7 separate regions of the Homo sapiens genome follow, and regions 2, 3, 4, 5, 6 and 7 are each linked to region 1. Evidence: fine-mapped expression QTL. A gene starts in region 1. Each other region holds a variant in brackets. All regions are shown on one strand. Distances are between the middles of the regions. Region 1 holds the start of EPPK1 (epiplakin 1). Region 2 has its middle 20 kb from the start of MIR661. Region 3 has its middle 12 kb from the start of NRBP2. Region 4 has its middle 25 kb from the start of EPPK1. Region 5 overlaps SCRIB (scribble planar cell polarity protein). Region 6 holds the start of PUF60 (poly(U) binding splicing factor 60). Region 7 has its middle 12 kb from the start of ZNF707.

Region 1 (4,074 bases):
GGCCAGACGAGGGGCTTCTAGGGGGTCAGGGCCCTGCCCTGTCCCCTGACATCCGGCCAGGGATGGCGGTGAGGAAATGAGAGGAGCACCTGATTTCCCAGCAAGGGGGAGGGGCAGTGCGGGCCAGGGTGGGGCAGGGCCAGCGAGGGCGGGGCAGGGCCAGTGAGGGTGGGGACAGCACCTTGGGCGGGCCCCTGACCTGCGCACAGGCCGCCAGCCCAGACAGGCCGCGTGCTAAGCGGGCCTCGTAAGCTCAGGCAAGTGGCTCAAGTTCCCCAAACAAAGAGGAGATCCAGGGAGGAAGGCTGGAGACAGGGCGCTTGGGAGCAGGGAGTCGGGGGCAGGCTTGCCCTGCGTGTGTGAGTGTGCCTGCCAGTGCATGCCCCGCACCATGCGTGAGATGCGGCCTGTGGCTGGCTGCACCACTCCCTATCTCTTCCTGACCTTGGGCCTGGTATGAACCCCTCTGGGCCCTGCCCCTTCCCTGGGCCCTGCCCCTTCCCAGGCTTGGCAGGAGGAAGGCCCGGGAGTGGGTGTCTTGACTCCATGTGGGGCCTGGGAGGGCAGCTGGACAGAGGGTCCGGAGCGAGGGGGGGCAGGGGGTGCAGCTTCGAGTGTGGGGGCATCTGGAGGAGGTGGCTGCTGCCTAGGAGAGCACGGGGTCAGGGTTAGGGTGATGGGGTGGGGAGGAGGCCGAGCAGATTTCCCCGGAGCCTGAGGCACAAAGGGCCCCTCCTGTGGATTCCCCACTTCAGGTGGCCCCCAGGCCCCAAGTGGTGGAGGGCCGTTCCTGAGGAGGGTGGGTCTGCATCTCTTGGGTGAGGTCACTGTCTGTCACCAGACTGCCCGGCAGGCCCCCACCGCAGCCTGGGACAAAGGTTGGGGAGGCTGCAGCCGCCTGCCTGAGTCAGGTCAGGACAGACCCTGGCAGCTGCCTGGGCCCACACAGGAGGCAGCAGCCTTAGCTTCTGCCCGGCTGTGTGCCCTTGTGGGAAGACCCCACCCACCTGCAACCTGCACCATGATCAGAGATCAGTGGCCCCAATAACAAGCTTGGCACAGTGCAGCGGGGGCCCAGGGCAGGGAAGCAGAGCCCTGGGCCCAAGTGATGAACAGGGCCCTTCCTGCCTCTGCCTCCCACGGGTCTCCAGGCGACCGTGTGACCGCTTACCTGACCCGGAGTGGCCACCCCTGGGACCGCTCACCCAACAGCAGGCAGCTTCCCCGGATCCGTGACGCCTCCCTCCCGGCAATGTTGCCAGGAGTCACCCCTCTCAATTTGTCGGCCTAGCTGCCTCCTGGCCTGGGCGTTCCCCACCCTGCAGAGCGTGCCCCGGGCGGTCCTCGCTGCAGGGAAAACCGCTGGGCCTGCGAGACCCCCGCCCCTGGCCGCCTCTCCCGTGAGGGCTCGGGGCCGGCGCCTCCTCTTCACCGGCGCCCGGGACTCAGGGGCGCCACTTCGGACTCGGAGCTCAAATTGCCCAGGGCGGGAAACCTGCCCGGCCAGAGCCCAAGACCCCGCTGGCCGCCGCGCCCCTACCCTGGCCTCGGCGTGCGGCTCCAGCGGGGATCCGGTTTCCTTCGGCGGCCGCCGCCCCGCCCGGCCCCGAGCCCGCACCCGCACCCGCCGCACCTGCCCGCACCCGCCGCACCTGCCCGCACCCGCCGCACCCGCCGCACCCGCCGCACCCGCCGCACCTGCCCGCTCGCCGCTCGGTCCGCAGTGTCTCCGCGCGCCCGCTCCGCCCGCATTTCAAGCCCCACAGGCCCCGCCCCCGTCTAGGGCGGCGCCCAGGTCGGGGCCCCGACGCGGGGCGGGGCGGGGCGGGCAGGTGCCGGAAACCCCGCGCGGCCCGGGCCTGGCGCTTGCACCCCGGGCAAGGGGCGGCGGCTGGGCAGCCGGGACCCTCCCCTCGTCCCCAGCAGGGAGTCACCGCGAAGGAACGCAGGGCGGGCGCGGAGGCGTCCTGTGCCCTTCAGAACAGCTTTTTTTTTTTGGGAAAGGAGTTTGGAGTGAAACGCGGACCGGCCAGAGCGGCGGTTTCTATCCCCACAAGCCACTAATGCGGTGCGGGCTGGTGTCCCTGCCTCCAGCCCCGACCCCACCTTGTCTGCTCAGCTTCCTGGGGACGCTGCTTCACGTCGTGTGTCTGCTGGGTCCAGGGGTCTTCAAGGCTCTCCTTGGCAGGCCCCCCTGCCCCCATGACGTTGTAAGAGCTGGGATGTCCTGCCTGGAGCAGTGCCAGGCCTCACCCCCCGGTCTGGCTCCTCCACCTGGGCACAGAGAATGTTCCCTGTCACCCTGGGAGTACCTGGTCCCCTCTCTGAAGCCCATCCTGGCACCCACCTTCCAAGGCTGGGGCATGCCAGAGACACTGGGCATGGAGGCTCACAGCCTCGGGGGCTGGCCTGGGGGCAGCCTCAGCCTGGCACGGGAACCTTCCATGGATCTTCTGGAGGGCCCTCCCCTTGGCTGCCCCGATATCCCAGGTGGGCAGGGCCACGGAAGTACAGGGCCCAAAGCCCCTCCTCCTCTGTCCCCAAGGCCCCTCCTCCTCTGTCCCGTAGTCCTGGAGGTCCTGAGGGCTCAGGTGCTCCCCACCCCCACAAGTGCCCCCTTCTCCCAAGCTCCAGCCCCCACCTCTGCCTGAGTCATTCTTGACCAGAAAATCATCCAGAGCCAGCCAGCCACCTCCAATGCACACCATGAGGGTAATTGCAGGCGCCCACGCAGGTGCAGGAGGGACAGGTTAGGCCTTCAGGGGTTAGGGTGCTTGGGACCACTGCCCTGGCTCTGCTCTCACCCACCCACCAGGTCCACACTCACACCTGCTCACCCAGGCTGCCTGGACCCTGTCCACACCTGCCACACTGGCCGCACAGCATGGCTGCTGCCGACTGCGGGGCCCTGACCCCAGAGGAGCTCTGGTGGAACCCGCATTTCCCCAAGGCACTGCCAGGCCAACCGCATCCATCCCCAGCCCTGCTCACCGGATGCCTGGACACTGTCTGTGTGGTCTTGCTGGGAGGCATGGTGGTGCTGGCTATGGCCTGTGGCCTGGAGCACACCCCAGAGCCACTTCTTCCTGCGGTGAGCCATTGCAGGCAGCGCCCCTGCCAGGCCACAAAACCTGGGTGTATGCCAGCCCCTCGCTGCAAGAAGGGGGTGTTAGGCTGGCCAGACCAAGCCTTCTTGTGTGCCCAGGGACGGGCCACATGCCTGTCTGCTCCTCACCCCTCCGGTATAGGCAGGTGGCACAGAGCTGGCCCTGCTCCGCTGCACCCATTTCTGCCCGTCACCCCTCCAGTATAGGCAGGTGGCACGGAGCTGGCCCTGCTCCGCTGCACCCATTTCTGCCCGTCACCCCCCTGGTATAGGCAGGTGGCATGGAGCTGGCCCTGCTCTGCTGCACCCACTGGCATCTGTCCCCTGGCTCCTCTCCCTCGGCTTTGTCTTCCTGTGACTCCAGATCCCCTGCCCTGTGGTGGCCCCCAGCCCAGTGACCTCTGGGGACACCTCTGGGGGCAGACTTGGGTGCCTGCCCTACTCCCCAGGTCCCTGGGCCACTCCCAGTCAGGGCTTCTGGGAGCCACCACCTCCCCAGGGGCTCCAGTCCAGTGCTTCAGCCCAGCAGTCCCCGGAGCCACAGGCCACTCCTCCAGCCCCCAGGCCTGGGCCTATACCACCTACACAGCAAGGAAGGGCATCAGGGAGGGTGTCAGGAGGTGAGCGAGAGGGCTCCCATGCCCAGTACTGCCCACGGCTCTACCCACCTCCTCCTGGCACTGGCACCTAGCTTCCCCCTGCAGGTCAGGGAGGCTCTCAGAAGACCTGGTCCAAGGAGGGAGGTCCCAGAGCCCCAAGACCAGTGCCCACGCTGCCCCTGGGCTGCTCCATGGAGTCACCGTGCTGGTTGGAGCCTTTGGCCAGGATCCCCATTGGTCCCTTGGAGCCTGGCATGGCCCAGCTCGAAGGGGAGTGCCCGCCATTGCTCCATAAAGCATCTGGGAGCAGGGTGTCCCCTCCACGGCACATGGCCCAGAGAGGAGACAGGGCAGATGCAGGCAGGATGG
Region 2 (4,074 bases), 87 kb after region 1:
GATTTAGACACAACTTCGATGATCAGATTTGGGACTTCTGAGCTGATTAAATGTTGTTCTTGTTTTTTTCAAGATGGGGTCTCATTCTGTCACCTGGGTTCAGCCTCCAGGGTTAAGCAATCCTCCTACCTCCACCTCCTGAGCAGCTGGGACTACAGCCATGTGCCACCACACCTGGCTAATTTTTTTTTTTTTTTTTTTTTGAGATGGAGTCTTGCTCTGTCACCCAGGCTGGAGTGCATTGGTGCAGTCTCGGCCCACTGAAACCTCTGCCTCTCGGGTTCAAGCAAGTCTCGTGCCTCATACACCTGAGTAGCTGGGATTATTGGTGTGTACTACCATGACTGGCTGATTTTTGTATTTTTAGTAGAGACAAGGCTTCACCATGTTGGCCAGGCTGGTCTCCTGATCTCAGGTGATCCACCCACAGGCCTCCCAAAGTGCTGGGATTACAGGCGTGAGCCACTGTGCCTGGCTAAGCGGATGGAATTTTAGACTTAGAGCTGATGCTACAATAGGTTGAGACTTTGGGGCATGTTGGCATAAGAAACATTTATTTTGGAAGTGGGGCAGATGTAAGTTTTGAGGGACCAGAGGACAGACTGTAGTGGGTTGAATGGAGGTCCCCAAAAGATATGTCTATGAACAATTCCCTGGAACCCATAATTGGTATCTTATTTGGAAAAAGGGTCTTTGCAGGTGTAATTAACACAAGGATCTTGAGATGAGATCATCCTAGATTACCCAGTAGGGGGCCTAGAACCAATGCCAAGTGTCTTACAAGAGATGGAAGAGAAGCCACAGGGGAGAGGGCCACGGGAGGATGGAGGCCGACACTGGAGTGATGCGGCCACGAGCCCAGGCACCGATGGCCACCAGGAGCTGGAGAGGCCAGGAACAGAGTCCGCCCTGGAGCCTCCGAAGGAGCGTGGCCCTGTCAACATCTTGATTTTGGACATGTGGCCTCCAGAACCGTAAGAGAATACATTTCTGTTGTTTAAGGCCACCCAGTTTGTGGGTACGTGTGACAGCAGCCACAGGAACCTAAAACAGGGCACATTCTCTGGGGGTATCTGTATTCTGTAAACAACCATGCATTCTTGTGGCAGTCATGACAGTGGCGTCCAGCTGTGTCTCTTAGGCCTATCCTGTGCCTGCTCTGTTAGCTTCCCAGGTAGCCACTCGTTTAGCAAGAAAGAAGAGAAAGAGATGCACTTTCAAAAGGTCAAAAGACACATTCATTTGAAAAACAGAGCAGAATAAAAATCATAAAAGCCACAACCAGAGACCTTTACTGCAGCTACCTCCTTCTGCTCCTGCAGACCCACACTTCCAGCCCTGACCAGCCCCACTCCCCCAACCAACCCCCACCCCCCCGCCCACCCTGGTGTGCCCCTGTGGATGGCCTTCCCCACCCTCACCGTCCCACTTGGCCCCAGCCCACCTGACACACCAGCCTGCCCAAGAGCACCCAGACTCACACCAGCCACCCTGATGCCGTCCTGGGGCCTTCCTTTCCTGCAGCACTGGCCCTGGGTCTGCCGCTACTCCTGGAGCCACACAGGGACACAAAGTGATCCCCATCCCATTCCTGGTCCTGGGTCTCCTCTGCCTCCAGGAAGAAGCAGCAACAGTCCTGCCAAGAGCTGACCACCAGCTGGGAGGACTCTTCTGCAGCTAACCAGGACCCAAATCCTGGAGAGCAGGCCCCACAGGCTGATGTCCCAAGTCCTACAGGATCCTGTCTTCCCAGCTGGCACCCTCCTTCCACCGTCTGAACGCGTGTTCCCAACTCCCCTTCCACTGGGCCTACAGATGACCCGGCCCATGCCCCATTTTGGGTCCCTGACCTCATGACCCACGGCCCCTGCTCTCCCAGCCCCGCATCTCCCTACCCACTGTGGGTCTGTGGGCATCACCCATGACCCCAGCGGTGGGAGATCTGGGCACCTGGTCCCACTAGCATCGCCCTTCCCAGCCTCCTCCAGTCCCTTCTTGAGGTACCTGGCCCCTGGCCCCTCTGCTGCCAGCTCCTCTTGGGCCTCACTGGGGAAACTGAGGCCACAGGGCACCACTGCCCACACCCTCCCAACAGCCCAACCCTGGGAAAATCTCCAGGGCCCTCAGTGGTGAGCAGCAGTCTGGACTGGCCACTGATGATGTGTGGCTGGGTAAATGTGAGCGACCACTCAGTACTCACCCTGGGCCAGGTGATGCCCATGCCCCCTGTGACCATGCAGGTCCCTCAGGCCAAGGCCCAGGGAACTCCTTCCCCAGGGAACTC[G/A]GGCCAGCATCCAGCTGAGGCTGTGACCTGCTGCGGCCTAGCCTCCATGTCACCGCTCTGTCCTGGAGAGGGTTCTCCCTCCCTGCCACCCTGCTGGACCCACCATAGCCTGGCACCAGCAGGGCCTCCTGAGCACTTCCCACATGCCCCCTGGCACCTCCAATCCGACGACACCCCAAGCAGTCCCGCTGAGGTCCCAACACCCCTCATCACCTGGTCCCAGCACCATCCAGGCCTCACCCTGCTCCCAACGTGGCCCTGCTTCCTCACGCCCCTTCCTCCTTCGCAGACCCAACAGGCCCCCATGGCTGCACAGCTGCCCACTGCTCTGCTTCCCGGCTGCCTCTTCTCATAGGCACCTAAGCTCTGGAGGACCCCAGGCTCAGAGCTCTGGCCCGAGGCCTGCCCTAGTGATGGCCTCCCAGCCTGGCCTCCCCACCTCAGCCCAGCATTTCCTGCACCTCAGTGTCTGCACACGCATACCTATCTCACAGGCATCTCTGATTTTATGCACCCAAGGCTAAGCGCTGGCTCTTCCGCCCTCTCTGCCGCAGGCACATCCTCTCCACCCCAGGCTGCTCTCTACCTCCACAGCCACCACGGGGGACTCCTCAGCCGCTCCTTGGGAGGCACCAGGCCAGGATCTTGCAGGGGTCCAGCCAGCTCCAAGTCCACCTATCCCTCCCACCCAACGCTTGTTTCAAGCCACACCTGCCACAGGACAGGGCGGGGCTCGGCTGGGGGGGTACAAAAGTGAAGCAACACATAGTCCCCGCGTCAGGAAGCTGGATTCTGCCACAGGACAGGGCAGGGCTCGGCTCGGGGGCACAGAAGTGAAGCAATACACAGCCCCTGCGTCAGGAAGCCGGATTGGTGGAAGGGGAGATGTTTACAATCATCCCTGTAACCCACAAGCCCACGGCCAGACCCTATGAGCGTGACACCAAGCATGACATCGAGCCTCCTTGAACATCTCGACCTCAGCCCCAAGCAAATTCCACAAAGATTAACGACAGAGATGTTTAAAAAAATGCAGCAGTGCTGGAAGCAACTCTCAGCAGATGTTTTTCTAAAAGAAGGCCATTTTAAGCATAGCATAAAATCCAGAAATCATAAAAGACTGGTGAGTGTTAAAAATTGATATGGCTAAAGAAACCACAGACAGAATTAGGCCAGGCGCGGTGGCTCACGCCTGTAATCCCAGCACTTTGGGAGGCCGAGGTGGGCAGATCACGAGGTCAGGAGATCGAGACTGTCCTGGCTAACACGGTGAAACCCCGTCTCTACTAAAAATACAAAAAATTAGCTGGGCATGGTGGCGGGCGCCTGTAGTCCCAGCTACTCGGGAGCCTGAGGCAGGAGAATGGCTTGAACCCGGGAGGCGGAGGTTGCAGTGAGCCGAGATCGCGCCACTGCATTCCAGCCTGGGCAACAGAGCGAGACTCCATCTCAAAAAAAAAAAAAAAAAAAAAAAAAAAGAAACAGACAGAATTAAACAAAAATAGATGCGTGGTGTGAGACCCATCCATGGTGTGCCCAGTGGGGACTCAGCAGGAACTTTCCAGGAGCTGAAAAGTTCTGTTCCGTGAGCTGGTGCTGCCCACAGGCAACTTCGAAGTTTACGCCGAATACAAGTGTCCCTCGGTATCAGCGGGAGATGGGTTCTGGACTCCCCATGGATACCAGAATCCACAGATGCTCAAGTCCCTGATGTAAAAAGGTGTAGTAGCCAGGCATGGCAGCAGCTCACACCTGTAATCCCAGTACTTTGGGAGGCCAAGGCAGGAGGA
Region 3 (4,074 bases), 26 kb before region 1:
AGGTGCCTGCCACTATGCCTGGCTAATTTTTTTTTTTTTTTTTTTTTAGTAGAGACAGGGTTTCACCATGTTGGATGTCAGTCAGGCTGGTCTCAAACTCCTGAGCTCAAGTGATCTACCCGCCTCGGCCTCCCAAAGTGCTGCGATTGCAGATGTGAGCCACCATGCCTGGCCTGTCCAGATGTTTTTGAAACAACCCCCACCAGCACTGGAGGGAGTCAAGGGAAGACAAGCCAGGCATCTGAGCTCCTCTGTCTCTGCCTTTCCTTCTCACTGTCCCCAGGGTAACCCATCACCACCCCCATCACGAACCCCATCATGAACCCATCACCAATCCTATCACAAATGCCATCTCGAACCTCAGCACCAGCCCCTTTGTGAACCCCATCATGAACTGCGTCACTAACCTGTCTTCCAAGCCTATTGTCTTGCTGCAAAGTCTACTTTGAATATAAATCAGAATATAGGCCAGACGTGCCGGCTCATGTCTGTAATTCCAGCACTTTGGGAGGCTGAGGCAGGTGGATTGCTTGAGCTCAGGAGTTCAAGACCAGCCTAGGCAACATGGCGAAACCCCAGCTCTACAAAATCTGCTGGGCATTTGTCTTTGACTTTCTAGTCCTTAAAAAAAAATCAGCTGGGCATGGTGGCACACACCTGTAGTCCCAGCTACTTGGGAGGCTAAGGTGGAAGGATCGCTTGAGCCCAGGAGTTCGAGGCTGTAGTGAGCTGTTGTACCACTGCACTCCAACCTGCGTGACAGAGCGAGACCCCATCTCAAAAAAGAAAAAAACAAAAAAAAAGAAAAAAGAAAAATGTGAATCTGAATATTCACTCGTTTTTTCTTTTGGGATTCTTTCCATAACATTCCTAATTTTCTTGCCACTAGAAGGATGACTTGGGCTGATCGGGGAGAAAATCTCTTTTTCGGATAGGAAGAAAAAAGCCACACGAATGTTAAAACTAACAAAAACAACAGTGTGCTTCTCCTTTCTGTCATTCTTGTGGATGTTTTTCAAACACTTCCAGGATTTGAATTTTATTTGTACTCACAACTGCTGAGTGAGTTAAGTGTTATTATGATGACCTTTTTTTTTCTTTTTTCTTTTTTTTGAGACAGAGACTCTGTCGCCCAGTCTGGAGTGCAGTGGCGGGATCTCAGCTCACTGCAAGCTCCGCCTACCGGGTTCAAGTGATTCTCCTGCCTCAGCCTCCTGAGTAGCTGGGATTACAGGCACCTACCACACTCAGCTAATTTTTGTATTTTTAGTAGAGACAGGGATTCACCATGTTGGTCAGGTTGGTCTCGAACTCCTGACCTCATGATCCACCCGCCTCGGCCCCCCAAAGTGCTGGGATTACAGGCCTGAGCCACCGCGCCCAGCCATGATGACCATTTTACAAAAAGGGAAACTGAGGCACTGAGCCATGAAGTCACTTTCGGAAGAGCCCACAGTTATGAAAGAGCAGTGGTGGCACCAAGGGCAGGGGTTCCATCCCAGGACTTGCCATCTGGCCCTTTGTAGGAGCATCCTTTGTACTTAGAGATTGGAGAGAAATTTTGTCAAAAGATCCCAGGAGTCTCCAAATCTACCCTGGTTCTAAACGTGAGGCGCAAGTACCTGGAGCATGGTGACTGAGGGACTCCCCTGGAGTGTGTCTGCCTCCCGTCACCACCTGCCCCAGAGAGTGCCACGTGCGAGTCCCGCTGGGAGGCCCCTGCGTCCTGCTGCCCCGCGGCGCATGCTGCCCAGCGCCCCAGCCTCCTGCACCCAGGCCTCCTCCCAGTCTCCAGCCGGCTGCTGTCCATCCAGATGCCACTCCAGTGCAGCCAGTGGAGCAGGGCCAGGAGTGTAGGTGGCCTGACCATCCCCTTCCCCAGGGCTCTGAGAAAGGCTTCTCCTCCAGCAGTGTTTCTATCCGGGGGGCACAGGGCAGCAGTGACCAGCACAAGCTTGCGGGGCGAGGACACAGCTTGGAGTTGGGCGCTCGTGAGTTCCCACCCTTGCCTTGAGGACCTGGGCTTGTTACACCCCCAGGACTCCGGTTCTTCACCTGTAAAATCAGAAGAGCACTTCTGGAAACTTCTGGGCTGGCAGAGATGGAGCACAGCCACTACAGCTCCTCTCTCCCTTTGGACAGAATATAAAAAGCGACTCCTGGAGGACTGTGAAACGCTAACAGTAGCAGCTGGCTGGGGAGGAAACTCAAAACTTACCAACAA[C/G]TGGCATGGAGGTTTACTGTTTTTGTTTTGTTTTGTTTTGTTTTTCCCCAGCTGTATGTGCGGCTTTGATCTGAGGATGGGGGTGTCTCACAACTGTGCCGTGGGTGCAAAGACCGACAACCCCAATACAAACCCGCCTTTCCCTCTGCAAATAAGAGTGCGTAGGAGAAACCCCCACTTCCCTCTCCTTTCTCTCCTAACCCTGTCCCGGCCTGCTCTTTGGTGGCATCACAGACCCCTGCGATCCTGCACGAGATTCCACCTGTATTGACAGAGGAGCTGGGCACAGGGCTCTGTGGTCCAGAGCGTGTGTGTGCAAGGTCCCTCTCTTATTTTCCCTGTCTTTTCTCTTGCTGTGTTGCCCCGAGCAGGGCCCAAGTCGTGTGAAATGGATGACAGCACAAGGAACTAAGACTCTGAGAAAAACCCTGGCTTTCTAAATGGACTCCTCCTAGGAGCCTGAGTGTATGGGAACCCCACAGAGCAGCGACCTGGAGGAGGGGCCTCCACGCTGAGCATGAAACAACACAAGCTCGGTGCTTGCCTGAGCTGAGCAGCACGTGTGGGGAACAGGCCGCACAGCAACAGCCTTGAGAATTGAGCCAACACGGATCCACTGCACACAGCGGCTGGGATACGGCTTGTGGCCTGACCCAGCCGGGATGAGTGCCCGCCAAAGTGAAAATGCCAACATTCTCAAGCGCGTTCTCGCAGGGCTCAGAGCCTCGCATCTGATTATTTAAAACATCCAGGATACAACCCCAAATTACCCAACATGCCAAGGACTGGAAATTGGATCCGGTCTCAGGGGAAAAGACAGACAGTTGCTGGCAGAACCCCAGGACTCAGATGCTGGAGGGACCAGGAAAAGATTTCACAGCAGCAATTCCAGCCCGATGCTCCCCGCGGCAAGAGTGGACACCCCAAGAATGAGTGAAAAGACAGACGTTCTCAGCAGGTGGAAATGGTAGAAGTGAAAAACATATTACCTGAAGTAAAAAATCACCTGAAGTAAAAAAGCTGGCCAGGCACAGTGGCTCATGCCTGTAACCCCAGCACTTTGGCAGGCCGAGGCGGGCAGATCGCTTGAGTCTAGGCGTTTGAGACCAGCCTGGGCAACATGGAGAAACCCTGTCTCTACTAAAAGTACAAAAATTAGCCAGGCATGGTGGCACACAGCTGTAGTCCCAGCTATTCAGGAGGCTGAGGCATGAGAATCACTTGAACCCAGGAGGCGGACTCCGCAGTGAGCTGAGATCACGCCCCACTGCACTCCAACCTGGGCAACAGAGTGAGACTCTGTCTCAAAGTAAAAAAAAAAAAAAGGCTTACTGAGTGTCTCAATAGCAAAAGGGGGATTACAGAGGAAGGAGTCAGTAAACTTACAAAGAGATCAATAGAAATTATCTAATCTGAAAAACAGGAGAAAAGATTTTTTAAAAAAATGAACAAAGCTTCAGAGAGCTGTGAAACAATATCAAAACATCTATCACTTTTGTATTTGAAGTTCCAGAAGGGGAATGGAAAGATATTAGTACATAAAACATTTATTTTGAAGAAATAATGGCAGAAAAGTTCTCTAATTTAGTGAAAGATATAAACTTATGAAAATCAAAAAGTTTGGCCAACTCCAGATGGGATAAACTCAAATCAAATATTTTATGTATTTATATGTGTAAAATTCCTCACCAGCAGACTTTATTTACTTTTTTTGAGAGGACACAGCTTGGAGTGGGCGCTCATGAGTTCCCACCCACGAGCCAAGGTGGACACTCACTCTGTTGCTCAGGCTGGAGTGCAATGGTGTGATCTTGGCTCACTGCAACCTCCACTTCTTGGGTTCGAGTGAT
Region 4 (4,074 bases), 24 kb after region 1:
GCAGTGAGCGGAGATCGTGAGCTCACTGAGTGAGCGAGACTCCGTCTCAAAAAAAAAAAAAAAAAAATTTTGTGTTTTTTGAGACAGGGTCTCCATCTGTTGCCCAGGCTGGAATACAGTGGTATGATCACAACTCACTGCCATGAGTCTGGGAGCCTCGACCTCCAGAGCTCAAGCAATCCTCCCGTCTCAGCCTCCCAAATAGCTGGGACCATAGCAGTGTGCCACCATGCCTGGCTAATTTTTGTATTTTCTGTAGAGATGGGGGTCTCACTATGTTGCCCTGGCTAGTCTCGAACTCCTGGGCTCAAGTGATACTCCCACCTTGACCTCCCAAAGTGCTTGGATTAAGGCGTGAGCTACCACACCTGGCCATTTTTCTCATTTAAAATAGATTATTGGCCGGGCATGGTGGCTCATGCCTGTAATCCGAGCACTTTGGGAGGCTGAGGCGGGTGGATCACTTGAGGTCAGGAGTTTGAGACCAGCCTGGCCAATATGGTGAAATCCCATCTCTACTAAAATACAAAAATTAGCCGGATGTGGTGGTGGTCACTTGTAATCCCAGCTACTGGGGAGGCTGAGGCAGGAGAATGGCTTGAACCCAGGAGGCAGAGGTTGCAGTGAGCTGAGATCGCACCACTGCACTCCAGCCTGGGCAATGAAGTGAGGTTCCATCTCAAAATAATAATAATAATAAAATAAAATAGATTCTCAACTGAAGGTTCTTGGTATTAAGTGGAGACATTAAGTGGAGGGCGTGTGTGTGAGTGCCAGTGGCACCCGCGGACGCTTTTTTCAAATGACGTGTATTCATGGCATGGACTGCCATTTTTCACATTTTCTGTTGACTTTCATTGGTTGGTGCTGCAAATGAGCAGGTCACGCTAAGGCTGTGGGTAATCGCCGCCATCCTCACTCCTCAGCTGATCCTTCCCATGCCCAGAGAGGCTGAAATAAAAATGAAATTTATAATCCTGGCAGGGCGCGGTGGCTCACGCCCGTAATCCCAACACTTTGGGAGGCCGAAGCGGGTGGATCACGAGGTCAGGAGATCGAGACCATCCTGGCCAACATGGTGAAACCCCGTCTCTACTAAAAATACAAAAACAAAATTAGCCGGGCGTGGTGGCAGGCGTGTGTAGTCCCAACTACTCGGGAGGCTGAGGCAGGAGAATGGCATGAACCCGGGAGGTGGAGGTTGCAGTGAGCCGAGATCGTGCCCCTGCACTCCAGCCTGGTGACAGAGCGAGAACTGTCTCAACAACAACAACAAAAAAGAAGAAATTTATAATCCTTTGAGTATTATATATTATAAAGTAACCAGGATCTAGTTGTTTCGTTTTGTTTTGTTTTTTACCAATTGGAATAATTCACGTTTAATGTTTCCAAACCCTTCTGCCTGCAACCGCCGTCCTGGGGATGAGAAATCTCTGGGGAGGAGGAGTTTGGGGGCCAGCATCTTGTGTCGGGGCATGGGTTGTTGAGATGACGCTAGCACCCCCCATCCCCCGCCCCTGCCTACTGGGCTGGTTTCCCCTCCAGGGGGTGAGGTGGCGCCTCCCAGATGGGACACAGCCTGCTGTCCCCACTTTAGTCAGAAAGCAGGAGTGAGACAGGTGGCCGGGACGAGACGCTGGGGCTGGTAGGCGCTTTGCTGCCATCTGCTGGGGAGCCCGCAGCAGCCGCCGCCGTGGACCTTGTGCTGGTGGAAAGCACAAAACCACTGTCCACGTGAAGGCCGCCCATGTCCTGGCAGCGCCCCTGAGGGGTGGCCTCCTGCAACCACCCACCTGCAACCACCCACCTGCAACCACCCAGGGGGCTGCAAAGCCACTCTGCTCGTGCTGGCCTGGCCTCTGAACCTATCACAACATAAGACAGAAGAGGACTGAATGGGGTGC[G/A]GCCCAGCGTACGCTGCTCAGCCTGGTCTTCGTGAATGGGCTCCATCCAGCCTCTGTCCTCAGAGACGGCAGGTGGTGCCTCATCTTCCTGGCAGACCTGGAGGGAGTGTGGGTAGAGTGGGACCCAGCCAGGAGTCCAGGCCCTGAAGCCAAGGGCAGGCCCATGTCTCCACCACCCCACAGTCTAGCATCCTCAGACCAGGCCCAAGAGAAGCCCCACTCCTGAGCAGGGGGAGGGAAGGGGAGGCCGGGGACTCAGGCAGCTGCCCCCTAGAGTGGGAAGGAAGGGCCCCAGCGTTTCCCAGCTCTAGCCCCACTTAGCTTTTGGTCCCTTTGCTGTGGTCCCCAGGGGTGTGGCTTCCTCGGGGGGCTGAAGCCAGCAGTCCCTCAGCAAACACGCACAGGGCTCCAGGGTGGGGGATAAGACTCTGCCCCCAAAAGGCTCTGAAATGTGTCAGGATGTGACATGGTGGAACTGACCAGGTTTCCAGCAGGTCTGCGGGGCTGAGGCTTGCATCCCCTGGGAGGCTGACATGCGCTGTCTGGCACGGAAGGTGGATATCCCCTCAGCTATGCCTTCTTTGTTCACTGGCTGGAATACTTCCGCGATGACAAACCTCCCTCTCATGCTGTTTGGTTACCCAGCGGCCCATCTGCATAGGAAAGACAGAATAAGAGCTTGATTCTTTTCTTTTATTTATCAATTTTAAAAATGTAAGCTTGTTGCCGGGATCTCCTAAGGACGATCAGTTAATTTTTTTTTTTAACTCAGGGATTTAAGCGGGTGAGTTGAGTAAGCTGAAGGTGTCCCATCTTCCGAACGCGTTTCTAGGACGGCAAAGCCTCCTGTTCCGAGACGGGTAGAGCAGGAAGCCACTTCCCACAGATCACAGCTGCCCCATCCCTTCAGGGCGTCCTGCCTTGCCTCGAACTCCTGGGCTCAAGTGGTCCATTCCCTTTCCTTAGAGTGTGGGATGAATGCCTCCAGGAGAGAGGTTCCTCCTCCGGGTCAGCAGCTGCAGCTACCTAAGCATTCTCTTCCTCACCCAGCAGGGCCCGCAGCCCAGGGTTATGGCGAGACTCCAGTTCAGGGTGGCGGCTGCCAGGGAGCTGTGGGTTGGTCGGCTGGAACCAGCTGAGGCCTCAGAACCAAGAAGCCCTTCCATGCCAGGCCCAGGGAGGAGGAGCCTGTTGACAGCGTTGTCCCTGGGACCTGGTGGGCAAACAGGCCGGGGGCGAGAGCTTGGGACCCAGAGACCCGGGTCCTGCCTGCATATGATCCAGTAGGGAGGGCAAGCTGGTCTGCCCCCGAGGCCCAGCCACCGTGCTGGGCTGTCCTGAGAGGCCCTGGAGGACAGGTGCGATGCTCGGTGGGCTGTCTCCACAATATACAAACATCAGTTGTATTTCATGCTAGCAGTAGGCAATCCAAACATGAGACTAAGCAAACAGCTCCACACACAATAGCACTGCAAATAATAAAATACTCAGGAATAAACGTAGCCAAAGAAAGTCAAGACTTGTATATTTAAGACTAGAAAACATTACTGAAGGAAATGAAGAGGACATGATTGAACGGAAAGTCATCTCAGCATCACTCCCCAAGCTGACCTGCAAATTCAGTGCAATCCCCATCACAATTCCACTGTCTCCTGCCTGGGGGCTGCCCCTCCCCATATCAGCCCTCTGCCCAGGACACAAGACTGCTGGGTGGCCTTGTGTGTGTGTTGGGGTGGGAGGGCTCCACTCCTGTCTGTGGCGTGCAGCCCTGCTCAATGCATTCCCAGCACTGAAGAACGGCCTCTCCCAGGGCCCAGCAGTTGGGGCAGCCTTCCTCCTGAGGTAGGAGGCAGGACTCAACTCCGGAGGTGGGGTTTGGACACTGGACCAAAGTGAGGATTAGCTAAAACAAGTGTCTTACAGGGAGGTGGAAGCACCTCCCTGTAAGACACGCCCACCAGTGTGCCATGTCATTTTACCATTCCGTGGTAACACCCAGAAGTTACTGCCCCTTTCCATGGCAACAACCAGACAAGCCAGAAGTTGCCACCCTCATCCTGGAAATTTCTGCATAAACCGCCCCTTAATTTGCATGTAAGTAAAAGTGGGCAGGCTGGATGCCCTGGTTCATCCCTGTATTCCCAGCACTTTGTGAGTCCGAGGTAGGAGG
Region 5 (4,000 bases), 69 kb before region 1:
GCTCTATCAGCAGGTTATTGGCCTGGTCAAACGACACTCCCTGTTAGGACAGGACCAGTGAGGCATGCAGGTTAGCCACCGCCAAGACCACCACCACCGCCTCACCCAGCCCCCGCCACAAGCAGAAAGGACAGAGGAGACCACAGCAAGCTCCCTCGACTGCCCTGGCACGGGCGCCTCCATCCTGGAGGCGTGAGTGACACCACACACCTGGGGACAAGCGGGGCTCCAGAGCTGAGCAGAGTCCCACCGGGCTGTCCCTGCTGTGGCCCCTCCGGGCCCCCTCAGCTATCATGCCACTGGCCCACACTCAGGGTCAGAGTGTCATCAAGGGCAGGGATAGTGAGACCCGGGGACTCCCCCTGGAATCTGAGTTTGCCCAGAGAGCAGGTGAGACCCTTTGTGACCCATGGAGAGGAGACTTGAGGGCCAGGGAGGGACACACTGGTGCCCCGAAGGCCTGTGTGGCACCTCAGGAGGGCCCGACAAGGCAGAAAAGAGCCATCAGGGCCTCGGGCCTGCAGTGCCCAACACAAGAGAGGATCCCAGGAGAGCCCAGTGATCTTGGGAGAGGAACAGACCCTGCCCTGGGACCACGACACATGTAGACAGGCCCTGGAGACCCACAAAGAGTGGGCAGCCATGCTTGACTTCTGTGAACTCCGTGCCCGCCAGCAGGTCGGGCAAATACTGGCCAGCAGAGCTGCCTCTGGCACTGAGACCAACGCCAGGGCAGGCCTGGGGTCCAAGCATGGACTGAGACCAACGCCAGGGCAGGCCTGGGGTCCAAGCATGGACTGAGACCAACGCCAGGGCAGGCCTGGAGTCCAAGCATGGACTGAGACCAATGCCAGGGCAGGCCTGGGGTCTGGTGAGAGTGGCCGTGATGCCGACTGTGGAGCACACGTGTCCACCACCTTCTCCGGGTGGCCAGGGGCCAGTGGGTCAGGCCTCGGCCCTGCTCCTGCCGCAGCCCTGGGTGCCCAGGAGGGCCAGGGGAATCTGGGTCAGGCAGGGGTGAGGCTGACACCAACCTTGACAGAGGGCGCAGAAACCACGGCCCCCTCCTTGTCCTCCTCCTCAGTGCTGGCCTCTTCCTCTTCAGCCCTGTTTTCCTCCTCCTCCTCTTCCTCCTCCTCCTGAGGACTACCCTCTTCCTCCTCCTCCTCCTCCTTCTGGGCCCGAGGAGCCCAGGGTGCGTGGGGGCCATTGTGCCAGCCCCCGGGAGCCACAGGGCCCTCCCCATCAGGCTGCATGCCCTGCAGCAGAGCCACAACGGCCTCGGGCTGGGGCAGCTTGGAGATCTTGAAGTGCTTTTTGTAGTGAGGTGTGTCCTTGCGGATGAGCCGCTGCCTCCCGCCTGGCAGGGTCCAGGGGGCCTCAGGCTGCCCCTCCTCGATCTCCCTGTCATCCCCGGGCAGCAGTGCGTCCTCTGCGAAATGCACCGTGGGCTGTGCGGACAAAAGGGTGAGGGTGGCCCCAGCTCTGTGGCTGTGCTTCCACAGGAAGACCCTACTAAACAGTGTGGCCACAGACGGGCTCCGAAAGCCTCCCCGCCACACAAAGACTCAGCACTAACTGCCCAGTGAGGGGCGCGTGTCTCAGCCCTGAGAAAAGCTGAAGGCCAGGGGCTCATCCTGGAGACACGCAGCGCCCCAGGTGGAAACGAAGGGGTGCGCCAAGGCCTCACACCAGGGAGCCCACGGGGGTCAGAAGAGAGTCCAGGGTGGGGGTGGGCTCTGTGAGCCCAGCCGTCAGGGGAGACCTTAACCCCACCTAGGGAGGCAGCTCTCCAGGGCACCCCCAGCAGCACGGCCCTGCACCACCCGTAGCCACTCTGTACAGGGCAGCTCCCCGAAGCATCAGCAGGGCCCAGGCACTGCCTGCACCAAAACCGATCCCAGCTGAGGCCCCGCAGGGGAGGCAGCCCCCACCCAGCAGGCCCAGCCTCCTGCCTCCTTCCTGCCAATCCACACCTCCTGGTAGTCCTCTTCGGCGTCTTCCTCCCCGCCAGCAGTCGTGG[C/T]TTCCTGCTGGCTCCCACCCTGTGCCTCAGCCGACGGGCCCTCGGGCTCAGCCTCAGAGACTGTGCTGGCAGATGGGCGAGAGTCTTCACTCAGGCCAGACTCGGCACTCAGCCGCTTCTCCTGCGGCGGGAAGTGGGGTCAGGCTTCGACGGAGCTCCCGACTCACAGGCTGGCCACCTGGGATGCCCCCCACGTGGCAGGCCTTCCCTGAGCTTCCCGCTGCCCCGACCAGGCACCGTTAACGGGCTCACGCCCTCGCAGCTGCTCCCTGTCCCAGCCTGCAAGGAAGCCACACGCCTCCAAAGCCTAGGGTGGACAAAGCCACGGTTCCACAGCCCAGCCCCAAGGAAAGCCTTTCCTAAAACAAACAAGGACCACACAAGTTCCCAGGAAAATCCCAGCGTGATATGAACCTCCTCCCCTCCCATGCACGGCCCCACACACCCTACCCCAGCCCAGATCACTGGTTCTGCTGCACCCAAAAACCCACAGCACGCATGTCACAGCTCTGAGTGAGAACAGTCAGGCCTGCTCTGTCCCAGTCCCAAACCCCTTCCCAGGTGCCGATGACACCCACGGCAGTTCCACCAGAGACCCTACCCCACAACCAAACCCCATTCCCTGTGCTCCCAGGCACACCCACCACTGGTTCTCCCCATACTCCAGCCCCACAGACCCGCCCTGCACGACCCACACGTCCACCCTGGCACCCTTCACCCAGCTGGCCCTGCAGCTCCATGTCCCTGAAACCTGTCACCAGCCTCATCTCCTGCTCCTTCTCTGTGCTGCCCTGGCCCTCACAGCCCCACTCCCAGGATGGACCGGACCACCACAGCTCCCGGGTCAGCGGCCCGCCAGGTTGCCGTGGCTCCATGCCCACCTCCTCTGCAGGCAAGGGCGACCCAGAGTCTGGCTGGCAAGGGCAGGCCTCGCTCCGCCGCCCCTCGATGCTCCTCTTCATCACCTTGAGCTCGCTGGGGTGAGGTGTGGCCCGGCGCTGTAGGCCCTGTTGTAGGGACAAGGATGAGCAGCAGCCACAGGGCAGGGGTCAGGCAGAGGTTCGCCCCCCAGATCCTCACCCTCATACCCGCTTCTCAGCTGCAGCTTCCTCAGCGTCCTCATCACCTATGGGGGCCTCCAGGAACTGGATGACGCTGACGCGGCTCGGCGGGGCATCGCTCCAGGTCTCCGAGAGGCTCCCCTGCTGCCCAGCATCCTCTGCAGCAGGTGAGCGTCAGGACCCAGGCTAGTCCCCAAACCCTGCCTGAGAGCCACCCCGCGCTAAGCACCGGTTGCCAACAACCTACCGAGGCTGGGTGGGGGCTGCTGGGGCAGCAAGTAGCAGGTGAGCACCTTCTCGCCGGTCCGGGCATCATCCTCCGTCTGGAACCGGAGCATGGGCTGCGCCTGGTTCTCTGCCAGCCACAGGGCCTTGAGATTGAGGTGGGTGAGCGCGAACGGCAGACTCTGCAGGCTGCGGGCCGGGCGGGCACAGTCAGCAGGCGTTGGGGCCACGGTTAGGCCCGCAGGGCAAGGCTGGCACTCACCGGTTCCCCGCCACGTCCAGCACGTGCAGCTCTGTCGTGTGGGCCAGCTCTGGTGGCAGGACGGCCAGGCGGTTGTCCCTCAAGGAGAGGACGCTGAGTGCCACACAGCCCCCGATCTCGGGCGGCAGCGCCTCGAGGTGGTTCCGGTCCACGTTGAGGTTGGTCAGCTTAGTCAGCTTTCCCAGGGAGCGGGGCAGGGCCTGGCCAAGAAGAGGAGGTCAGAGGACGCTAGGGGCTTGCTGGGGGTGGGAAGGAGATGACAGCCCCTGGCAGGAGGGCACAGACACCCCAGGCCAGCTCCAGCCAGGGTCCCTCACAGCCCCTGGAGACCGGGACAAGGACCTGACCACAGAAGCTGTCTCCACCCCACTTCGTGCCCTCTGCTCCCCAAGCTCTGCCCACTGCCCTCAGCCTTCAGTCCCCACCACC
Region 6 (4,074 bases), 50 kb before region 1:
GGCCGAGGCAGGTGGATTGCTTGAGGTCAGGAGTTGGAGACCAGCCTGGCCAACATGGTGAAACCCCATCTCTACTAAAAATACAAAAATTAGCCGGGCATGGTGGCAAGCACCTGTAATCCCAGCTACTTGGGAGGCTGAGGTGCTACCATGAATTGCCTGAACCCAGGAGGCAGAGGTTGCAGTGAGCCGGGATCACCCCACTGCACTCTAGCCTGGGCGATAAAGCAAAACTCCGTCTCACACACAAAAAGAAAAAAAAAATAATGTGGAGCGAATGACTGAAGGTCCCAAGGTCTCAAGGCTTCAGGCTCCTCAGCTGGGAATGGGGACGGCCTGTCTCCTAGGGCTACTGTGAAGATTCAGTGAAATCCCAACACGCCCCCAACCCCACAACCTGCAGTCCCTGCACATGGAAAGCAGCAAAGCAAGCCACAGGTTCCAGCACTCATCAGTATTAACAACATCCAGTGTCAGATACCCAGGGCAGAGCTGGCTGCAGGACACTGCCTTCTATCTGTCAGTTCCCTTCACACAATGAACACTGCTTACTGCGTGCCCAGGCTCCACAGTGAGCGCTGCAGAGGCCGCAGACACGAGACAAGAGAGAAAGACGTCTCTCTCAGGAGCCTGGTGTCAGCTGCCAGCAAAGAATGCCAAAATCAAAGATGACTTCTGTGGTTTACCAGCACTACGAAGAAAGCACAGGATAAGAAAGGAGTGGCTATGAGCTATGCCAGGCCATGGCAGCCGGGGGCCTCTCTATGAGGTGACATTGCAGGCTGGGGCCTACAGAAGAAAGGAACTGGAACCCCAAGGGTGATGACCCCAAATGAGAGCTGGTCTGGCTGTCAGTGAAGAGAACGGAGCCATGCGTCAAAGTGAAAAGATGCATCCAGAAGACCTACCCTTGCTGCAAAGAGGCAGCCGGCCTCATTCTGCAGCCACCAGGCAGAAGGCATGCCCATGGGAGGGGAGGCCCTTCTGCATCTTCTGGCTTCCTTCCCCACCAGGCCACTGTCAGCCAAGTTCAGCTGCTCCATTCAACCTCCCATGAGAGCTGAAGCAGCATGAGACAGGGGACAGGCTCTCATCACTGTGCCCAACCAGGACGGTGGGAACAGATAACCCTTCTAGAAGCCTTTCCATCCCAATGATTAAAAGAGGAATGGGTTAGACCACAGGCTACAGCTCACTCCTGGAGCCGGATGCAAGCCTGAAACCTGACGATAAAAAAACACGTATTAAACCCAACAGAATTTGGATGGCAACAAACACCCCAACAGACAACCCGTTCGTGGGGTCAGTTATGGCCCACGTCCAACTCAACAATGACACCACCTATCTGGCACCACGCCACAGCAGACCTGAGCCCCCATTTAACCCTCATGAGCACAGGGCGCTGTTCTGCGGGTGCTAGGGGAGTCAGGCATCCACTCTCCTCCTCCACCTTCCCATGTCCAGTCCTTGTCTCTGAGCCTCCTCCTCCTTCACCATCAACTCTCTGACTGCTGCCTGAAGACAGTCACCAGGTCCTCAACCCTTACATCCTTTCTCTCTGGAGTGCCCCTCAAAGGTCACTTACTCCTGTGGCTTCAAGAGAAAGGACATAGTAGAAAGAGTGGAGTTAGCCAGTCCTGTGAATCACACACTGGGCTGCCCTCGCAAGCTGGGTATCTTGTGTAAATGCCTCTCTCCCCCTAGTAACTGGTTTCTGCCTCAGTGGGACATGGGACCAGCCCGCCCGCTGGGGGCCTGGCAATGGCAGTCTAAGGACACTCCCTGGTCCTGCCAGTCCAGCCTTCAGCCATTTGCCCAAGCTGTCTTCTCAAACAGACCTTATCCCATCCCGCTGGGTGTGGGCTGGGGGAAGGGTGACAA[G/A]TAATACAGGGGTAAACTGCGGCTGAGAAAGGTCCAAAAGGGGATTAGGTCCTATAAGCTAAGTGGTGAGAAGGAAAGACCAGACTTCATCGTGCATGTGTTGTGTGCATGGGTGTTCTCCCTCTACGTTAATAACGCCTGCCCTGCCCGGGGAAGTGGGCACTGAGCAGAGCAGGGGGCGACTCACTCCTCTGGATGCCCACGCAGCTCCCTAGGGCGCCCAGCAAATGGCACCCTGGGTGGGAACTGGCTTCTGGTGCGCACTAGACCTCCAACTGCCTGTCTGGTTCCCCACTGCGTCCCCAGATCCTCCCGCAGAGCTGGGGACAATGCGATTTCTCAAAACACGTAGGATGAGAGCGCACGTCCTTCCTTTCCACGTGGAGACAAGAGAATGGAGATAACCAGATCCCTCTCCAGCACCGGAGAACGAATTCACAGCTGCAGGCGTAGTGAGCCAAGGCCGCCCCATGCTCTGAGCTGCAGGCCCCTTTCTACAGGTCCCGTCCCCTTCTGATCCCATCAACCCGAAGGCCCACGCGTCACCCCCAGAACCCCGCTTCCGTCGTGACCACGGCGCACACCCCCGTCGGCAAAGGGAGGACGACGACCCCCGCTTGCCGGACCTAGCGGACAGGAACGCAACCCCGCCAGGCTCGCCCGCAAGGGCCACACGCCGCGCCCAGGCCCCCGCCCCGCCCCGCCGGAAGCTGGGGTCCGCAGGCCGGAAGCTGAGGCCGCGAGCCGGCCGCCGGCGCGCGCCCGCCCCGCCCCCGCCTCACGCGACCCGGGGACACGAGGGAGTCCGCGCGGGACCTGGGAAGACCGCCGCGTTCTTGGGAGGCCCTCCGCGCCCAGGCTGGGTCGACGACCCGGCCCCGCAAGCCGAGGGCCGCCCGCGCTCATGGGGGGGCTCACTTACGAGAGCTATGGTCGCCGTCGCCATCTTGCGTCCGTCGCGGCCTCCGCGCGCGCCTCCCACTCTTGCTCCTTCCGCTGTCTCGCGCGATCTGGGTGCCGGTGCACGGAACTCTCGCGAGGAAGGAGGTAAGAACGCGCTTCCGGGGCGGGGAGGAACGGTAAACGCCCCCGGGAGGGGCGACGGAAGGGGCGTGCTCTTGGCCGGGCGAGGGGCGTGGCCCGCGCACCTCGGGCGTCTAGGGGCGTGCGCCGCGGGACTCGAGTCGGGCGTATCTCTCCGCGTGGCCGACGCGGGCGTGCGTAGTACCCTTCGCCGCCCGTCGCCCTTGCGGCCACTGCTACGCTTCTCTTCTCTGCCTTTTTTGGAGAAAACGCTGTCGCGTGCGTCGTCCAGAGGCTCTCCCCCAGGAGGCAGGCGAAAGAGCGGGGCCCTCCTGGGCTGGAGGAGTCTCGGGTGATGAAAGGCCCGCGTGTTTCAGGCTGACGTCGTGAGATGCGTCGTCCCCGCGTCGCGACATCCCTGGGACCGGGAGGCCCCGTTCAATTGGCAGCTTTTTCTCCTTCCAGGGAACCGATGACCCTAGGTTGGCTGACATCAGTCGCTAGACCCGCAGCCCGCAGGCCCCGTTAGTCCCTGAACTGGCTTTCATGGCCCAAGGTGTCTGTCAGTACTGCTGGGAAAGCTGCCTGTCCTGGACATTTGCCATCTGCTGCACCCAGTCCCGAGACCCCAACTCGGTCATCCGAAGAAGCCACATCTGTAAGCTCAGGCACCTTCAGCTGCCTAAGGCCACAAGGCATCCCGGGCAGGCCTCCTTTCAACCCTGGGAACATTTAGAATTTAATACAGACACTTCTACTTAAATAGGGCAGAATATTCCCCGCCTCCCTCCTGAAACCTTCCAAAATTATAGGAAAGGGGTTTTATAAAGACAAACCCTGCAAGGGCAAAGAGCTGGGATATTGCAGAGCTTAAGAAAGGTGGACAGCGAGAGCTACTCCAGCCCACTTGGCTATGGAGGCCAGTGTCTGAGGGTCGTGGGTGAAAGCACAGCTACAGAAAGGAAACCCCAGACCTCTGTCCCTACCCACCGGGGCTGGCAGGCACTGCAGTGTCTGAGACGTGAGCTCCAGGAGAGGAGCTCTGAGGCCCTGCTCAAGCAAGGCCCTGTCTGAAAGCCTGGGAGTAAGTGAGACTCTGGGTCCTACCCCTGCCTCCACCCCTGGGCTGGGTCTGACCACCCGCATGCCATCAGGCTTCTCAGAGAAGAG
Region 7 (4,074 bases), 210 kb before region 1:
AGTTGACATGGGATTTGGGTGGGGACACAGACCCAAACCATATCACTCCTGAAGAGCTAGGACTACAGGAATGCTATACCTGGCTAATTGTTTTTCTTTTTTTCGTTTGTTTGTGTTTTTTTTTTTTTAGATGGAGTCTCACTCTGTTGCCAAGGCTGGAGTGCAGTGGTGTGATCTCAGCTGACTGCAACCTCCCAGGCTGGAATGCAGTGGTACAATCTTTGCTTACTGCAACCTCTGCCTCCCGTGTTCAAGAGATTCTCCTGTCTCAGTTTCCCGAGTAGCTGGGACTACAGGCGCCTGCCACCACGCCCAGCTAATTTTTTATTTTTAGTAGAGACAGGGTTTCACCATATTGGCCAGGCTGGTCTTGAACTCCTGTCCTCAGGTGATCCACCTGCCTCAGCCTCCCAAAGCGCTGGGATTACAGGAGTGAGCCACTGCGCCTGGCCACACCTGGCTAATTTTAAAAAAATTTCTTGTAGAAATGAAGTCTCACTATGTTGACCAGGCAAGTGTCAAACTAACTCCTGGCTTCAAATGATCCTCCTGCCTCAGTCTCCTAAAGCACTAGTATTAAAGCTGTGAGCCATCATGGTTAGCCTGTTTTTATATCTGGGAACTGTTGCTGTACAAAAATCAAATATGGGGTTGGAGTGGTTCACATCTATAATCCCAGCACTTCAGAAGGCTGAGGTGGGATGATTGCTTGAGTCTAGGAGTTTGATACCAGCCTGGACAACAGGAAGTCTAGGCTGCAGTGAGCTGTGTCGGGCTGCTGCACCCCAGCCTGGGCAACAGAGCAAGCCCTTGCCTCAAAAAAAGAAATCAAATATGAAGACTAAGAGTTTTAGGATTTGGTGTTAAGAGGTTTTGTTTTGCGTTGTTTTGAATTTTTGTGGGCACATAGTAGGCGTACGTATTTATGGGGTACATGTTTTTGTTTCTTTTTTTTTTTTTTTTGAGACAGAGTCTCACTCTGTCACCCAGGCCGGAGTGCAGTGGCGTGATTTCAGTCCACTGCAAGCTCCGCCTCTCAGGTTCAAGTGATTCTCCTGCCTCAGCCCCCGAGTAGCTGGGACTACAGACGAGCACCGCCACACTTGGCTAATTTTTGCATTTTTAGTACAGACGGGGTTTCATCATGTTGGCCAGGCTGGTCTCGAACTCCGGGCCTCAAGTGATCCACCTGCCTCAGCCTCCCATGGGGTATACGTTTTGATACAGGCGTGCAAAGTGTAATAGTCACATCATGGATAGTGGGGTATCCATCCCCTCAAGCATTTATCCTTTGCGTTACAAACAATCCGATTATACTCTGTTACTTTAAAATGTACAATTAAATTATTATTGAATATAGTCACCCTGTTGTGCTATCAAATACTAGGTCTTATTCTTTCTAATTTTTTTGTACCCATTAGTTAAGGGTTTTTTTTTTTTTGAGACAGAGTTTCACTCTTGTCACTCAGGCTGGAGTGCAGTGGTGAGATCTCGGCTCACTGCAACCTCTGCCTCCTGGGTTGAAGCGATTCTCCTGCCTCAGCCTCCTGAGTAGCTGTGATTACAGGTGCACGCCACCATGCCCGACGAATTTTTGTATTTTTAGTAGAGACAGGATTTCACCATGTTGGCCAGGGTGGTCTTGAACTCCTGACCTCAGGTGATCCACCCACCTCGGCCTCCTGAACTGCTGGGATTATGAGACTTACGGTTTACCAAAGGGGTGCGATGGGCCTTCTGTGTGGTGTCCGCATCCTCTCCTAGCTGGTTTCGGGAGAGTGCCGGCCCTCTGGGGCCTCTCTCCCTGGCTCGCCCTTTAGAAGGGGTTCACATAGTTAGAACCTTAGCAGTAAAGGTAACCTGTGCCTTGCGCAGGGCGGGGGACCTGGTGGGGACCCCAGAGGCAATGGTGTCAGCCCCGGTTATGGACTGGCGTCACTTGCGGCAGCCAGGTCCCACATGCACCCACCCTAATTTAATTAGACCAGGCAGCTAGGCAGGAACACGTTTATTTATTTTTAATTAAGCTTTTTGTGATAATTTTAGATTTGCATGCAGCTGTAAGGTGTTTTACAGAGAGATGCTGGGCACCCTTTACCTCCCTCAGTGGTAGCACCTGGAACCCTGCAGTGCACACAGCTGGGGTATTGATGTTCACAGAGTCAGGATATGGTCCTCACCCTT[C/G]CACAGCCACACCCACTCCCTCCCTCCAACCCTCCTTCAGGGCTGGCAACCATTCATCTGTTCTGTCCATTTCTGTAATTCTTTTTTCTTTTCTTGTCCTTTCCTTTTCTTTTCTTTTTTTCTCCTTCCTTCCTCCCTTCCTTCCTTCCTTCCCTCCCCTCTCTCTTTCTCTCTTTCTTTCTTTTTCTTTTCTTTCTTTTTTTTTGACAGTCTTGTTCTGTTGCCCAGGCTGGAGTGCAGTGGCGCGATCTTAGCTCACTGCAACCTCCACCTTTCAGGTTCAAGAGATTTTCCCAAGCCTCCCAAGTAGCTGGGATTACAGGCATGCACCATGCCTGGCTAATTTTTGTATTCTTAGTAGAGACGAGGTTTCACCATGTTGGCCAGGCTGGTCTGGAACTCCTGACCTCAGGTGATCCGCCTACCTCGCTTAGCCTCCCAAAGTGCTGGGATTACAGGCATGAGCCACAGTGCCTGGCCCATTTCTGTAATTCCATCTTTTCAAGAATGTCCTGTGAATGGAATCATATACAGTATATATGGAATTGTTCTATTGAGGCCCAGTGTCACCAGTACCCATGGATATACAATCTCCTGGTGGGGCCAGGGTGCACCATGGCTCATGCCTGTAATCCCAGCACTTGGGGAGGCCAAGGTTGGAGGATTGCTTGAGGTCAGGAATTTCAGATCAGCCTGGGCACCATATTGAGACCTGTCTCTACAAAAAATTTTGAAAAGTTAGCCAGGTGTGGTGATGCACTCCTGCAGGCCCAGCTACGTGGTGGGCTCAGGCGGGAGGATGGCTTCAGCCCACGAGGTAGAGGTTACAGTGGCTGTTGCTGGGAAAGTGTGATACATGCAAGAGAATGAAGTTGGACCCTCGTCAGTACCACATACAAAAATTAACTAGAAATGGATCATGCTGGGCACCGTGGCTTGCACCGCTTGTACCTGTAATCCCAGCACTTTGGGAGGCTGAGGAGAGTGGATCACCTGAGGTCGGGAGTTCGAGACCAGCCTGGCCAACATGGTGAAACCCTGTCTCTACTAAAAATACAAAAAAAAATTAGCCAGGTGTGGTGGTGCACACCTGAAATCCCAGCTACTTGGGAGACCGAGGTGGGAGAATCCCTTAAACCCGGGAGGCAGAGGTTGCAGTGAGCCGAGATCACGCCACTGCACTCCAGCCTGGGCAACAGAGCAAGACTGTCTCAAAAAAATAAGTAAATAAAGTAAAATAAAAAGTAAAAATGGATCAAAGATCTGGATGCAAGACCTGAAACAGTAAACTCTTGTTAGAAACTGGGAGCAGAAGCTTTTGACACACACTGGGTTTGGCAATGATTCCTTGGACACCAAAGGTACAGGCAACAACAACAAACAGCCAAATGGCTTCGTGAAAATTAAAGCCTTTTGTTCATCAAAGGACACTCCTAAAAGAGTGAAAAGCTGCCCCTTCCCCACAGAACGGGAGAATATCTGCAAATCACGTGTCCGATGAGGGACTCATATCCAAAATATCGAAGGAACTCCTTGTGGAGGCCAAAGCCGCTCCAGCCTGGATGGTGACTATTGTGTGGGCTTTCGACTAACCCGTCCAGGGAAGGCCTCCGACGTTTCCAGGTGATCTGTTGTTCCTTGTGTAAGGGCAGGCACTTGCTATAAACCCTGCCGCAGGGTCAGACGGCCCTGATGCCGCCCATTGTCCTGCACTTCCCTCCCAACCCTCCCCGTGGTACACAAGCCCTGGGCGGGGGCAATGGTGGGATCCAGTATCTCCTCTTGCCGCTGCCAAGACAGACATGGCTTCTTTTTCTAAGTCCCTGTTAAGTGTTTCTTTCTAAGAAACTGGGTTTGTTAGCCTTTTTCTTTGACCTCTCAGCTTCCTCG

Evidence for each region.
Region 2: its variant is fine-mapped to the expression of EPPK1 in whole blood (TOPMed, PIP 0.96).
Region 3: its variant is fine-mapped to the expression of EPPK1 in whole blood (TOPMed, PIP above 0.99).
Region 4: its variant is fine-mapped to the expression of EPPK1 in whole blood (TOPMed, PIP above 0.99).
Region 5: its variant is fine-mapped to the expression of EPPK1 in whole blood (INTERVAL, PIP above 0.99).
Region 6: its variant is fine-mapped to the expression of EPPK1 in whole blood (INTERVAL, PIP above 0.99).
Region 7: its variant is fine-mapped to the expression of EPPK1 in whole blood (INTERVAL, PIP above 0.99). The same link has a PIP of 0.9 or more in iPS cells.

What each region holds. Positions count from the first base shown.
Region 1 is chr8:143,876,740-143,880,813 of GRCh38, forward strand. EPPK1 (epiplakin 1) reads right to left here and starts at 1,728. Exons shown (of 2, transcript NM_031308.4): 1 at 1,699-1,728. RefSeq lists a silencer at 1,782-1,871 and an enhancer at 2,438-3,080.
Region 2 is chr8:143,963,628-143,967,701 of GRCh38, forward strand. It overlaps a transcript of PLEC not described here. Among named protein-coding and RNA genes, the nearest start is that of MIR661, 20 kb to the left of the region's middle. RefSeq lists enhancers at 1,168-1,945, 1,946-2,723, 2,724-3,500. The variant G/A (reference allele first, on the strand shown) is at 2,285.
Region 3 is chr8:143,850,730-143,854,803 of GRCh38, forward strand. No RefSeq gene overlaps it. Among named protein-coding and RNA genes, the nearest start is that of NRBP2, 12 kb to the left of the region's middle. The variant C/G (reference allele first, on the strand shown) is at 2,225.
Region 4 is chr8:143,901,022-143,905,095 of GRCh38, forward strand. No RefSeq gene overlaps it. Among named protein-coding and RNA genes, the nearest start is that of EPPK1, 25 kb to the left of the region's middle. RefSeq lists silencers at 1,480-1,774, 1,511-1,560 and an enhancer at 1,817-2,387. The variant G/A (reference allele first, on the strand shown) is at 1,905.
Region 5 is chr8:143,807,575-143,811,574 of GRCh38, forward strand. SCRIB (scribble planar cell polarity protein) reads right to left here. Exons shown (of 37, transcript NM_182706.5): 10 at 3,572-3,771; 11 at 3,332-3,498; 12 at 3,112-3,242; 13 at 2,905-3,030; 14 at 1,977-2,144; 15 at 1,035-1,451; 16 at 1-40. Among named protein-coding and RNA genes, the nearest start is that of MIR937, 3.5 kb to the right of the region's middle. The variant C/T (reference allele first, on the strand shown) is at 2,024.
Region 6 is chr8:143,826,477-143,830,550 of GRCh38, forward strand. PUF60 (poly(U) binding splicing factor 60) reads right to left here and starts at 2,839. Exons shown (of 12, transcript NM_078480.3): 1 at 2,804-2,839. The coding sequence starts at 2,827. LOC107986985 (a long non-coding RNA gene) reads left to right here and starts at 2,804. Exons shown (of 3, transcript XR_001746138.2): 1 at 2,804-2,928; 2 at 3,370-3,562. It also overlaps a transcript of NRBP2 not described here. RefSeq lists a silencer at 2,557-3,126 and enhancers at 2,911-3,610, 2,931-4,074. The variant G/A (reference allele first, on the strand shown) is at 1,882.
Region 7 is chr8:143,670,229-143,674,302 of GRCh38, forward strand. No RefSeq gene overlaps it. Among named protein-coding and RNA genes, the nearest start is that of ZNF707, 12 kb to the right of the region's middle. The variant C/G (reference allele first, on the strand shown) is at 2,185.